Homo sapiens: one gene and its partners. The protein of the gene in region 1 purifies or fractionates together with the protein of each later gene. This does not show direct contact. Each region holds a gene or a part of one and is shown on either strand. Other genes may lie near its edges.

Region 1 (3,500 bases):
CCAACAACTTTTCAAGTCTTGGTCTTCTCATTTGTAAAATGGGGACAATGCAAGGCTATGATTTATTCCTCACAGGAAAAAAAGTCCTCTGGAAATGTAAAAGCCGCATTAGAGTAATGTTTAATAATTCAAGATGAGGTCTGGAAGAACATCAACAGTCTCTCACCCTCTGTGCCCAGGCATTTTGAAAGGGCACTGTGCCAAAGTCCATTAGTGCTGGGAATACACATCAGCAGGAAGCCTTTTGCATCTTGACTCCCTTTCCATTGAGCCCCTGAAATCAGATGCCTAACAGGAAGATAGGAAGCTGAAGTGTTATGGGACCCCAGCTATCAGTCAAACGGTTTTCCTAATGTCTCCTTTTTAGTTGTTTTGTTTTAAAGAAAGAATTAGCTTTCACAATCAAGGTTGCTGTGATTCTAAAAATCCCACAAAAATGCCCGCTTGGAATGCCTAGCTTTTCAAGGCTTCAGGTAACCTGAAAGTCCTCTGATTCAGATACTGGCAGAACCTGAACATGCTGACAGCTTGGATTAATTTGGGGGAAAGGATGCAAGGGGCAATAAAATATTCTAACTTCAGATTCAAAGAGGCAGCAATATGGTGAAGAAAAGCACAAAGTTCCAAAACCAGACTGACGTTCTCTCCCCCAACTGACTTGTACATTCAGTGAATTAACTCAGCTGTGTATTTCCCCAATATATCAGCCTGGTGAGAGATGCCATAAACAGACCTGCAGGCAACCCTACAGACATCCCTTATCCCTCCCCTCCTCCAGGGGTATAAAGGAAAGCTAACATTAAGTGAAAGACATAAGTCTAGAGCTGCAATGTCCATAGTGGTAGTCACCAGGAATGTGTGAATAGCCAGCATCCAATAGATAGCTAGTCCAAATTGAGACGTGCTATGTGGATAAAATATCCACCAGATCAAAAAGACTAGTATGGAGGAATGTAAAATATTTCAATATTTTATACTGAATACATGCTGAAATAATATTTTGGGTATATTAGGCTTAAAATATATAATTAAAAATAATTTCATCTGTTTTTTTATTTCTTCATGTAGCTACTAGAAAATTTTACAGTATAGGCAAGGCTCTCAATTGTAGCCCAAACTGTATTTTTCTTGGACAGTGCTGGCTCAGAGCATCCCAGTTTCACCTGGATCCTTTGAAAGGACAAATTGAACATATGGAAATGCAGTCAGGCTCACAAAACAAATAACCTCATTTTCCATGAGGTGACCTTGACACCATTGAAAGAATGAAGCCGATTACATGGCTGTCCTCTCACAGTTGATCTCCAAGTACAAGACTGTTTCTTGTCAGGCTAAATGCTCTCTTGCAATGATCTGTTTTAGATAATACCAAGAAAAGCTCTACAGGGTATGGGTCAAAGCACAGGTACTGGAGTCAGGCCGACCTGGGTTTGAATCCCATCTCTGCCACTTTCTAGCTGGGTAATCTCAGGAATATTATTTAATATATTAAGGTGCCTATTCTCTGTAACAGGACAATCAGATTTCTTCACAGAGAAGGGGAGGGAAGGGTTAACACAGCAAGGGAGATGAAGAATCTTGGGCACCATGCCTAACAGACAGCACTTGAGAATGGTAGCCATCTAGTAAAATTCTAGCAATCTTATCTGAGCACCTTCCAGAATAATGATGAGGTAGGGGAGACGGGGATGGGGTGCAAAGGAGATGGGACCACTTGTCCACAGACCTTGGAGTCAGTGAATTAAAGCCGAATCCTCAGGAACGGTATTTATTCCACACAGTGCAACACTGCCCTCTAGTGACAAAGAGGTGGAAAAGCTTTCAGAGCATGAGGCAAGCAAGGAAGAAAAATACATTTTTCCAGGCTCTAAGACAGTAAGTTCTCCAAATCAGAGAGATCATATCAAAGAATAATTTTTTCTCATGAGTCACCTTTAAAGCAGTGACATGGAGTATGAAGAGCAATATTATCAAGATTTACTACCAACCCAGAGGTTGTCACTTTGTTAATTATATAATATCTCAAATAGGAAAAACAGTAATTCTCTCTAGACATATTAAATGTGACACCTAAAAAGAAGAAAGTCTGAGTGTTCCAGGTTACTCGACATTATTCTGGTAGGACAGCACGGAGGTTTAAGATTCATGTATAACAGTTTGTAAACCAGATTTGATCACAGATTTGGTTAATGCAACTAACAAGGTCAAAACTTAAGGCTGAACTGGTATACAAACTTGGAAGGAATACTTACCATTTTTAACCTCTTTTCTCCTTGCAGAGCACCTAAGTGAGGCTAACAGTACCCTGGGTTGTTGTGGGGAGTAAATAAGAAAGAACACCGAAATGCCCAGCAGAGTGTCTAACACACAAGCAGTAAGTGTTAGCTGCTGCTATTTTTGTTGTTTCTGTTGTTCCAACTGCCACAGGCCCAAATGGAGGAAAAGCCATAAGATAAAATAACTCCTTTTACTTTTTTGGGTTAAAACCAAGGCTTACCTAGTTTCATTTCCTGATGCATCTACCAATCAAATGTATCATTTTATAACAAGAACATCTTAGCACAACTTTGATGTCCCTGAGATTATAATGCTAACTGAAGTTTGGTAATAGTTTAGAATTCAGATACTGATCTTTAATAAGGCAGAAAGATGATGCTGTAATCAAAACCGTCTGCAGAGACAAGACGTGTCACCATTTCTATCGTAAACCTACTATGGTCGTTTTAGGCAGTCTCTGCCCATCTTCATTCTTCTCAATTAACTTGGATGAAAAACATAATACTTTAAATTGGAAATTTTTTATAATAATTTTCCTCACTTAATTTTCATTTTTAATATAGTGATCTCACGTCCAAACATTTCCCATTTGATGATCACCGGGTAACCATGTGACCCCTTAAGCCAGTCCCAGACAACTATAATACATGCTTTCTAGTATTGTACAGTTCTTGTTTCAATATCCTGTAGTCACTTCTATATCCTGAAAAGGAAAAAAAGAAAAAGAAAACTGATACAAAGATATGTGATTACTGATGTCAAGGGTACATGCTAGAGAAGACCAGGAAGCAAGTAAGTGCTAGAAACCCACGTTCAAGGGTCCCACGTGCCCCATCTGCAGAAGGAAGAATGTGAGCTACACACCTTGTCATGGTATGGTCCTAAGACAATCCAGCCACAGAATGTGTAACCCAGATAAATCATACCAGCACAAGCACAAAACCGAAGAACTTTTGGCAGTGAGGCCTGCATTGTTAAAATCAGCACCTGAAAAAAAGAACAGAATGGGTGAAATGAAAAAGTAGCTATTAGAACCCAAAGAATAAATGAGTCTCAACTGCAGTGGCACTACCCGGTGCCGCATCCTTACATTATATGCCTGGAAATAACCCAGGTATCTGATGACTCCAACCCAAACCAAGAGCGTAGAGGTTCCAAGAAAAATGCTGCAGAGATCATAGTTTGTGAGATTCTAAGGAATGAAAAAAAAGAAAGAGAGAAAT
Region 2 (3,500 bases), on another chromosome or scaffold:
ATTTGGGGGTAGCAGGGTGATAAGGTTAAGGTCAAAAGACATGTCAAGGATCTTTCTATGTCTTTGGCTTGAACAACTGGATAGATGGAAATCCCATGTCTTGAGGTGGGGTGCATGAGAGGAGGAGCTGATTTGGAAGGGACAGTCCAGTGTTCAGCTTGGGGCATGTTGAGTCTGGTGGGGAGGGTGTGTTTGTAAGGTAAGGGAGCACAGGGACTGGCCTTTCTTGAACTCTGGTAACTGGCTTGTGGTCTGGATACAAGTTAGAATAATACATAAACCATTTCCAAAACCCAACAGATTTTACAGGTTTTCAGTTCACAGATAAGTTGCTATAATTGATGTTGCCTCTGTGGTCTTTCAGATAGCACAGCACTCTAAAAATTTCTATGTATTTGATGGGCATGACATTAACAATATTCATTTTATAGTCAGTGCTCACTTATTGTGATCTGTCTTCCTTGGTGTTCCTAGAGCCGTGCCTCCCTGGCCCACAGCGTCAGGTTACAGATTTGATCTTTACATGGATCAGTTGGATTTTCTAAGTTGTCTTGTGACAGGTTGCATCCCTCACCTTGGATGGCTGACTTGGTAACTGATTAGGAAGGAAACTGCCCTAGAGTTGTTATGAACTAGGACTGATTGGTCTTTGCTACTACTTAAGACTCAAAACGTATGTTCTACCTACACTGGGACTCTAATGGCCTTTGTTTACAAAGGTGGAGCCCAAAAGACGGGCACTTCTCACATTGGCTATGGTTATATCTCCTTTCGCATTAAGTATACATTTACTGAGAAGCCAAGCCACACAATTTTACTTCTCTTTTGATTTCCTGTGGACAATATTTTTATTTCCTTCAACAAATAGAAGTAGGCCATTTAGAGGCTGGGAATATAAGTGTTTTGTTATTTGCTGTACCTCCAGTGCCTGGCACAGGGACTGGCATGCATATGGCACTTGATACATGTTTATTAAATACATGAGTGAAAGAAGGAATGGCTGAATCATCATTCTGTGAGAAAGGATAATTCAGTTTTCAGAAACCAAGACATCAGGCAAACTATATCTTCTTCTAAGATTACGTCCCTGAAACCTGAGAAATCAAAGCTGAAAAATAGAAATTTGGGCATCATCCTGATAAAAAGAATTACAAAAATCATTAAAGTGGAAGCCCTTGAGTGTGTGCAGGAGAGAGTAGGGATAGAGGAGAAGTGAACAGCAGAGAAACGGGTTGGAAGGAGGAGTGAAGCCTCAGGAGAGCAAGGTGTCCCACAGAAGCAGGAGCAGTCAACAGTGGAGAGCTGGGAGGTGCGAAGGGATGCAGACAGAAAGACACCTTTTCATCCAGCCAGAAGTAACTCAGGAAAGTGCAATCAGAGCCTGGGACACAGTGTGAAGTAAGACTGGGAATTCTGTCCTTTTATCTATATTCTTCATTACTAATGATTGTAATTGAGGGGCAAGTTTTTCTTGAGCAAAGATGTAGTTAGTTTTGATTTTCTGCTACATAAAGCCCAGCATCATAAGACACTGTTGGCAATGATATTGAAGGGTTTATTTTGTGATTTCTTGTAAGCTGATTATTTACTGATCAATGATCAAGGCCAGTTTTTCCATTGTTCCTGTTAAAGGTAATAATGTTTGATATATGTAACATAAATATTTCTGTGTGTGTGTGTGGGCACACGTGTGCACACATATTGATAAATTTAGGAGAATTACAAAAAAGTTACGGTAGGTAAAGAGTTGAAAGTTGACTTGAGTTCTAATGTGAAAAATATAGGCCATTTATCCAAAGTTATGTGGGAGCATTTCAGTTTAAATTTCATTAAATTCTCTAGTTCATAAGAATGCTACAGAGCTACAATAATAACAATATAGAAACGGGTTGTGCTAATACATGGGGTTTTGCCAATAATGTGTGTGTGCATGCACGTGTATGTATATGGCTAATTTTGTGTGTGTATGCATACACATATATATATACACATGCATAATTTTTTTCTGAACATTGTTTTGGTGTGATGTTGATAATAAGAATCCATATGGGGGCATAGGAGTACATTTGAGTCTTTTTAGGATGTTACCATTTGCAAAGGAATTAATTCTCACATAAGTAAGTTTACTTTATAGAAATGAAAGTAGTAGCTACTGTTTATTCTGCATCTCTTTTGTTCCAAGCATGTCACAGTAATCCTGGGAAGGAGGTTTTATGTTTCTTAAAGGGAGGAAATTGAAGTTCAGAAAGTTTAAATGATTTGCCCCAGGTCACAGAGCTAGAAGATAGGAGAATCCTGCCTTTTTTTTTTTTTTTTTTAACTCTAAAACTCATGCATTGTCCAGTGTGCAGTCCAAGTTAGAATCCTTAGGGTATTAGAGTGAGTTACCTGTTTGGTTGGGGGCCAATTAATCTCCACAGAGAAAGCAGAAACCATTAGATGAGAACTTTTTCAACATTTTGCCCCTAATAGCTACACCTGATTTTTCTTTTCTTTCTGTTAAGAGGAAAAGACTCTTCCCTCCAAGCACTTGATCCTTTTTATTTATCTCTTGCATCTTTAGTCTGTGTCTCTGCCTGCATCTCTTCCCTTACTAGCTTCTTCTCATGAGCATGAAACAGTCCCTCCCTGGCTTAGTCCGTTTAGGGTTGCTATAAATACCTGAGTCTGAGTAATTTATAAAGAAAAGAGGTCTATTTAGCTCACAGTTCTACTGGCTGTAAAGTTCAAGATTGAGCATCTGGTGGGGGCCTCAGGCCATTTCCATTTGCGGTGAAAGGTGAAGGGGAGCTAGCATGTGCAGAGATCATGTGATGAGAGAGGAAGCAAGGGAGTGGGGAGGTGCCAGTCTCTTTTAACAACCAGCACTGGCAGGAACTAATAAGAGTGAGAACTCACTCATCCCCTGACCCCAGGGAGGGCATTCATCTTTTCATGAGGGATATTCCCCCATGACCCAAACACCTCCCATTAGGCTCTACTTCCAATACTGGGGATCGGATTTCAACATGAGGCCGGGCCTAGTGGCTCATGCCTGTAATCCCAGCACTTTGGGAGGCTGAGGCAGACGGATCACCTGAGGTCAGGAGTTTGAGACCAGCCTGACCAACACGGTGACACCTAGTCTCTACTAAAAATAGCCAGGCATGGTGACACATGCCTGTAATCCCAGCTACTCAGGAGGCTGAGGCATAAGAATCATTTGCACCCAGGAGGTGGAGGTGGCAGTGAGCCAAGATCATGCCATTGCACTCCAGCCTGGGCTACAGAGTGAGATTCTGGCTCTAAATAAATAAATACATTCATTCATTCATTCAACATGAGGTTTTGGAGGGACAAACACCTAAACCACAGCACTCGCGAAAGGCAATACCTTCTGTATTAGTTAGTAGTTGTTGCATAACAAACCACTCCAAAGCTCAGTGAAGTAAACCAAGTACCATTTATTTAGCTCACTGTTTTGTGGGTCAGCAAATTAGGCTGGGCTCAGCGAGACTCAC
Region 3 (4,153 bases), on another chromosome or scaffold:
TTCTAAAATTTCAAAATGAAATACTGCAAATAAAGGCCATTATTCAGAAATTAGGGCCTCAGTCAACAATATCCATCGTCCATCATAGGCCGTTGAGGCAAAGGAGCTACTTGAACAAAATATTTTCTTGTTTTATTTGGCTTTCAAAAAGCAAAGACACAGAAGCAAAGTCTCAGAAAGACAAAAGTGCCTGGGATGAACTTACTCGCCACAGTTCAGAATAATTTTTGTTTGTTGTTTGAATAAACATGCATTGATTCCCCTAATGAGTGTCAGGCACAGTGTGGTGCTGAGGAGGTAATGGTGAAAATGACAGCCTTTGCCCTCATGGGACTCCTAAGAGACCAAGGCACACACAACCTCATATAATCCACCATACATGCCCCTTCCAGCCATGTTTATGAAAATCTAGTCCTGTTATACTATTAGACGGTAAATTTTTCCCTTGGTCTGACTCCATGGAACTTCACAGGGAAGCAACTGATACCTTGTAAATAAATAAGTAAACAAATATCCATATTCTCATACCAACAATAACTCATGGGTAAATTTCAATGAGTTTAAAGAAAATTTTGTGAACCTAAGAGCGTATCAAAACGGGTTTTACTTTTGAACCAAGCCGAGCCATATATTTTCATTGCCTGTGGCTATGCAGCGTCAGTAAGCTAAAAATACTTTTCTTTCTTCTAAGTTGGGAAGAGCAAGTTAAGTCCAAACAATCGGATGTGTATCATTTTCTCTCATCTTAAATTTTTTACTAGAAAACACTCAAAATAACTGAAGCAAAGAAGAGGCATCTGTTTCATATCTGCACACACATACACAGAAACATCCCTCTAGCTTGCATCTATCTACCTAGCAATATTAAACAAGCTATATTTGCATCATCAGCAAAGTCTGCCAACATTTCACCACTTACAGCTATTTATTATTATTTTTTGGTTGGGGAGAAAGCTGCATAAGTATTGAAAACTAACCACAAGTAAAAGCTTGCAAAAAAAATATGTATAGGATACGTCCTTAACAAGAGGACATGGTGCTGACTTTGAATTTACGTTAAAAGTAAATTCAAATTCAAATTCTGAATTTACATTTAAAGTAAATTATGTTTGTGAAAATTACATTAAATTAGATTCTAAAATAGGATAGAAACTTTAAGTTCTTCTACAGGTCTTGCTCAAGTTGGGTTTGCTGTGCATGGCAAAGTGAAAACCTGTGTTTCTCCTCTTTGGCTTCCCGAAGCTAACTGTAACATACATGCATCTCTGTGATGAAGTAAAAGCTACTTAGGAAGACAAGTAAACCTGTTTTTAAAGAAATAAACTACTGCAGGATGGTGAATGGTATGTAGTGTGGACTTTTCCCACACATCCAGCATCTCTAAAGACATCCTATTAAATTAAAAGAATAAGAAATAAGAAACTAGCAGGTCCAGATCTAGGTTCCTTCCATTCGACTGGGCCATGACTTTAATTAAGCTGCTGGGTCATGGCTTAATTTTCCCTTGAAAAACAGCACAGTTTGAGAAATCTCTGCCAAACTCTTCATTTTTTAAGCAACTGACAAAGTCAACAAGAAAGCAAATACCTAGAATCCACGGAACAATGCTCCTCAGAGCAGGGCTGGCAGAAGCGGCGGAGGGCTACCAGTTTCCCTGCCCCGATTGCAGCTGGGCCTTTGACAAGAGCTCGGGTAAAGGACTATCTGTGCACCCGCCCACCAAACGCCCAGCGGGACGATGGGCTGGTGCTACGAAGTTCTAAACCTAACCGCTGGGAGGAAGAAGCGGGAGGATGAGAATGTCATCTCCCCTGACACTCTGGTGCCGGCAGTCCTGAAACGCTCACCTCTGACGTCCCTGAAGGTCAGAGGTGGCAACCACAGTGCCAATAGCTCACCAAAGCCACTTTTCCTGCCCGGGTGGAGGCGCGGGGCAAAGTTGGCCACCGGCTGCGCGCGTCCCGTTAGCCGTACCTTGTAACTGGGCGGAGAGGGACTCCTGGTGCTGCTGGTACTTGAGCGCCACCGCCTCGGCTTTCCGCAGCTGCGTCTGCAGCTCGTAGTAGAGCATCGCGCCGTAGAGAAAGCCGAACACGACGGTCAGCAGCAGCAGCGTCTGGAAAATCCGCTTCTGCTTTCGGGAGCACATCCCGTTTCCCATAGTCCCGCCTGGACCCAAAGCCGCGGCCGCCCCCGCCGTCTCCTCCCCTTGGTCCGAGCGAGCGTCTCAGCAGCGGCCGCCGCAGTAGGTGGCCAGACGCAGCATGAGGAGGAGATGCCAGACACAAAAGCCGGCCCGGAGGGGAAGTGGCGCCCGCTCAGCCCCCGCGCGGCGCGGGGCGCGCAGCCATCGACGCCGCCCGGGCAGCTGCAGCCAAACTTCTGCGAGGCTCGTTCTCCGCGAATGCCCGGGGCCGGGAGGAGGCCCTCCGCATACTTCAGAGCCGGCTGCCCTCGCGCCTGTCCCCAGATGCCTCCTGCCTTTTTTCCTTCTTCCCACTTTTTGGCCCCGCTGCCCCCGGGCAGTTCTTGGAGTCCCGCCCTGGCCACTCCCCGCCCTATCGCGGCGGCTCCCACTGCACGACTTTGTTGCCACCTAAGGGAGGGGGTGCGCGCCCAACAAAGGGACCAGGACTCCGGGCCGCGCCCCCGTGCGGCCTGCCCAATGGGTGGAAGGGTGGGGGCCAGCTGTCTCGGCTGGTTTTGGGGACGGCACAGCGGTGTCACTGACGGGTCGGCTGGTGCCTCTGCCGCCCCGCCACCTCCTGCCCAACTTACGTGTCACCCACGGCCCGGCTATTCTGGCCAACGGGATTCCGGGAGGAAGTCCCACTCGGCCTCCTTGCTCATTGGGCCCGTCCGAGCAGACGCTCCCTCCCTTCGGGGAGGCAGTGCCGGGCTCGATTGGATGCCGGCTTTGTCCGTCCGACCCCAGGGCCGCACCTTCCCTCCCAGTGCCGGGGCCGGCTAGGGGCTCTGTGGGCAGCGCGGCCGCCTGGCGCCGGGGTGCGCCCACGTGGAGTCGGAGAGGGTGGGAAGAGGCAGGCGGAAGGGCGAAGGGCGGGGAGCTTTGGGTGGGCGGGGGACTTGTCCGGGCCTGAGTCTGGGTGAGGTTCGGTGAACACGTGTGTGTGTGTGTGTGTGTGTGTGTGTGTGTTCCAGTTCTCGTTCGGAACGCACGTGGAGAGCGGAGTAAAATGTGTGTATGAACGAAAGAATGGATGGCAGTAACTGTGTGCACTCTGCTGAGTACACTTTCTTTCCCTGTCCAATAAACTGATGCGGCAGACACATGGGATAGCTACATAGCACAATCCCGGTAGTCAAACCAGAGATGCCATGTCGACTGCCTTACCCCATCCAGTGTACTAGCCTAGATGTGTGTGTGCCCACAGATGGCCCGGCAGGAGTCGGGAGACTGGAAGCACGCTAGACTTAATGTTCAATTGTCCACGTGGGCTGGGGAAATCGGCTTGCCATTGGCAGAGAGGAAAGAAATGGTCTCACATTTCTCCTCTAGCTGCAAATAGAATAATTTAAAAACAAATCGTACAGACTGAAATGAGTATCCATTCATTTTGTCATATGTATTTGTTTTATTGGTGGCAAAACACATCAGTTACATTTCTAAATTACATTTTAAAGGGCAACAAAGGTTCCCTATGTAAAAACTAGTACAGCACAGGAAAGGTAGTAACCACAAACCTCTTCGAAGAAATGTATACTGCATTTATTTTTTCTGTGTACTTGAGGGGAATAATTAAGGTTATGCACAAATGATAATTTTTGTTTCTGCTGTTGACCTGAATTCTAAGAAAAGTAAATTTTATCTGTCTGTATAGTGTGGTGTAATTTATGATACACTGCATAATTTTTATATTCTAACTGGACTTTAGTCGTTACCATTGCTAATGGGCCTGAGTGCTCAAAATGGGGGTAAATCTCTTTAGCTAAATGCAACAGAAAGACAGTTCCTGGTGCAAAAGTTTTTTTAGGTGGACTCTGAAATTATAGGTTGCTAAAGCCCTAAAATAAACTGAATTTATAACGATGCTACCCTGTGGCATTTATACCACTGTAAAAATAAAGTGTGTCTTGCATGTGCTTTTCCTTAATAAATAATAACTTGCGTTAAATTATTCAAAATGCTTTC
Region 4 (3,500 bases), on another chromosome or scaffold:
GGAAAAGCTGTAGTGACAGAGTATATTTGGACTTACTAAGGGAACAGAGAGAAAGGTACAAAAAATGATATCATGGTCTTGGCTGTGAGACTCTCTGGGATTCTAAAAATGCTGAGGTCCATACATGTTCTGGTGCAAGTACCAGGAGAAAACAGAGCAGGAACAGAGCAGGTACAGAGAGGAAAAAGGAAAATAATATATAGTTAATATGTTATGCTTTAAAAAATGTCTGAGATCAACTTTTTCAAATTTTGAATATTTAAAATCACTTTAGTTAAATTATCTATCTAATGTGAAAAAAACCTTGTAATCACAAAAGTATACTACAGTACCATAGATTCCAACTGACATAGTTTAAAGGTTAATATCTAGCCAAGTGCTTTTGGAGAGTTATAATGTCAGAGGCGTGTGACCCAGAACAACTACATCTTGAATAGGAGCTGGGTAAAATGAGGCTGAAACCCACTGGGCTGCATTCCCAGATGGTTAAGGATTCTGAGTCACAGGATGAGATAAGAGGTTGGCACAAGATACAGGTCATAAAGACCTTGCTGATGAAACGCATTCCAGTAAAAAAGCCAGCTAAAACTCACCAAAACCGGGAATGACCTCTGGTCGTCTTCACTGCTACAATCCCACCAGTGCCATGACAGTTTACAAATGCCATGACAACATCAGGAAGTTACTCTATATGGTCTAAAAAGGGGAGGCATGAATAATCCACCCCTTGTTTAGCATATCAAGAAATAACCATAAAATGGGTAACCAGCAGCCCTCAGGGCTGCTCTGCTTATGGAGTAGCCATTCTTTTATTCCTTTACTTTCCTAATAAACTTGCTTTCACTTTACTCTATGGGCTCGCCCTGAATTTTTTCTTGCACGAGATCCGAGAACCCTCTCTTGGGGTCTGGATTGGGATCCCCTTCCTTAACAATAGTGTCATTTTTATCCCAAATGTTTCCTCTTCCATTTTAAAATCTTCTTCATTACAACCATTGGCACCTCTTTTTACCTTGAAAGCAAAGCTAGTCTTTACTGTGGCTGTGCTTCTAAGGTTTTTAACAAACCCATGTTGAGTACATCTTTCAACTTTCATTTTTATTCTTTTGTCTCCTTTCTTTTGCTTCTCCAATCACTGGTATGGAGAATTACTTCATTCCAGGGCTCTCTAAAGATATAATGAGCCTTTCTCTCCTTTCTGACTTCCCTCTGCAACATTCCTTTCTTTACTTTCTCCTGACACTATAGGAACAGCCTTTCTATTGACCTTATTAATTATAAAAGGACAAGATTAGCATCATGAGTATAGTTCTCAAATATAGCAGCGTATAAAATACGAATGACATTTTTCTGTGTGCTTACAATGTAAAGCAATTATAATAGGGATGTTATGGTTGGCTTTATAAGTAAATATTCTGATTTATACTACCTGTATCTACAGCTACATAATTGATATGCAAATTTGACTTTGTTTTGCATAAGTTTATCTGGCCATTATATCTATTTATAAATGTAGTTTGTGATTATATACACTTAGAGGTACTTGGTGTACTAGTTGAAATTTTATTTCCACATACCTCTGTGGGAGTCTGTTGAGCCTTTTTTTCAGATTTTGGCAAATCTTTGCTTCCTCTTCTTTTTAAGGATAACTGAAACAAAGCATGAATATATTTAGTTGGATAAACTATAATTTTAATTCAATTTTATGTTTTTAAGTATTCTAGTCTCAAACGACAAAACCAAGACAAATAAAAAGAGTTAGTTCAATAATCATAAAAGGAGGAAAAAAAATCCTAAACCAGATAGATTTAGATATATTTTTACTTTGGACTAGGATACACATCACAGTAGAATGTAGCTGGCAATTATTTAATTTGAGAAATACAGGAAACCTACTGTGAAAATGCAGAAAAACAACAGACAAAATTGATTGTTGACTCAATATGATATATAGTTCAAATGTAAACAAATGCTTGTTAGCATTCCACATCACTGAAGGAAAAAAAGTAAGTTATTATTTCCAATGTTGGGAGTTAGGTTGCTATAAGCTTATGAACACACACTTTCAGTGAATTTATGTAGAATCGGAAGCACTTCATTCTCCCCTCACCACACATCACCCCCTTGCTCCTCCTCGACACGTGCAAAATGATAGGGCATGGTAGGGGTTGTAGTGAAATGGAGAAGGCATGCCCCATCTCAAGAAACAGGTGGACCAGCCACAGCTTCAGCTCATTGTGTGATACAGGAATGTGGGCTTTTACAAGAGAAGCTGGGAATCTGGATTCTTATGTAAAATCTCCCACATTTTACTGGCTGATCCTAATTAAAATTCAAACTAACACTTTGGAAGTCAAAGAATACACAGCTAGTGCCAAACTGTTTCAAGGACAAGCGTAATATGATCTCTGGTGCTCAGTTCCATTTCTCACACCAATATAAGAAGAAGGGTCTCTGTATGTAAACAATAATTATCCGTATGTATGACTGTCTACCATATACTACACATTGAGGGGGAGACTCAAAGTTTGATTAGATACTGCATCTACCATCAGGAAGCTGAAACTTAGCAGGGGAGGAGACAGAGAAGCAAACAATTACAGTGCAAATTGATAAATGCTATGCTTTAGGTTCTGTGAAGCAGGGGTTTTGATTTAGTGTGGCATCACCACCATAAAAATAGTGCTTGCCACATGGCAGGTGGTGAAAAAAATACTTGCTGAACTAATGATATATGAATACCAAATCGAGGTTCTGAGGTCAAAGAGAAGGACAGGGGTATAGACTGACAGTAAAAATAGGGAAGCCTTTTCCAAACAGGAGTCTTCATAAATTCGCAAAGAAATGAAAATTAAATTCTTCACATGTTAATTTCTAACCCATATCCACTGTTAAGTAAAGGCATACGTTCAAGCACAGAAGGCAGGGGAATACTTTGGTGCAACTGCTTTCATTCAGTATGAAACTGAAACTACACAGACAAATGAATAGCCCACGTGGTTATTCATTTCTAGTTCTTTACAGGAAGAAGTTCTTTCTGTTGCTTGTATAATCTTCTTAGAAAGGAAAGCTTGGGGACTGACTCACCATAACCAAAAAGTAATTTAGGAAGTAATCAACAAAACAGTCCCAAGAATACCAAGAATAAAGTGAGCTAAACTAAGAAACCTGGAACATTCTAGGTAGGGGCTGCCTACAAGAAGCGTTGAATTTGTTTCACTAAATACTTATTGAATGCTTGTATTTGAATTCACTCAATTATGTGTTTATTTAGTGACTACCAATGCACTTCATAACATACCTGTGACACAATAATAATGAAACCAATGTGATCTTTGCTCTTTTGGGGGTTCTCAGCTTACTTGGCATGATCTGTTCAGTCTGGAATTCAACACAGTGTTATGAAAGCAATGATAATACAAGAACAATATTAACTGTCATTGAGCCCTAATTCATGTCAACCCCTTCACATACATTATCTCAGCTAATTTTTAAACACT

The links. Proteins that work in one complex are often made in the same cells at the same time.
Region 2: the proteins of MCOLN2 (region 1) and RHBDD1 purify together in Homo sapiens (affinity purification with mass spectrometry; one large-scale study listed by BioGRID and IntAct). This does not show direct contact.
Region 3: the proteins of MCOLN2 (region 1) and GOLIM4 purify together in Homo sapiens (affinity purification with mass spectrometry; one large-scale study listed by BioGRID and IntAct). This does not show direct contact.
Region 4: the proteins of MCOLN2 (region 1) and MTCL3 purify together in Homo sapiens (affinity purification with mass spectrometry; one large-scale study listed by BioGRID and IntAct). This does not show direct contact.

What each region holds. Positions count from the first base shown.
Region 1 is NC_000001.11:84,934,614-84,938,113, forward strand, and holds part of MCOLN2 (mucolipin-2), read right to left. Parts: intron 3,470-3,500; coding exon 3,368-3,469; intron 3,265-3,367; coding exon 3,142-3,264; coding exon of another isoform or gene 3,091-3,141; exon of another isoform or gene 2,981-3,090; coding exon of another isoform or gene 2,954-2,980; exon of another isoform or gene 1,753-2,953; intron 1-1,752. UniProt on the Homo sapiens protein: Nonselective cation channel probably playing a role in the regulation of membrane trafficking events. Acts as a Ca(2+)-permeable cation channel with inwardly rectifying activity.
Region 2 is NC_000002.12:226,860,054-226,863,553, forward strand, and holds part of RHBDD1 (rhomboid-related protein 4), read left to right. Parts: intron 1-3,500. UniProt on the Homo sapiens protein: Intramembrane-cleaving serine protease that cleaves single transmembrane or multi-pass membrane proteins in the hydrophobic plane of the membrane, luminal loops and juxtamembrane regions.
Region 3 is NC_000003.12:168,093,125-168,097,277, forward strand, and holds the start of GOLIM4 (Golgi integral membrane protein 4), read right to left. Parts: upstream 2,801-4,153; 5' UTR 2,162-2,800; coding exon 1,975-2,161; intron 1,703-1,974; exon of another isoform or gene 1,588-1,702; intron 1-1,587. UniProt on the Homo sapiens protein: Plays a role in endosome to Golgi protein trafficking; mediates protein transport along the late endosome-bypass pathway from the early endosome to the Golgi.
Region 4 is NC_000006.12:127,481,336-127,484,835, forward strand, and holds part of MTCL3 (microtubule cross-linking factor 3 precursor), read right to left. Parts: intron 1,650-3,500; coding exon 1,578-1,649; intron 1-1,577.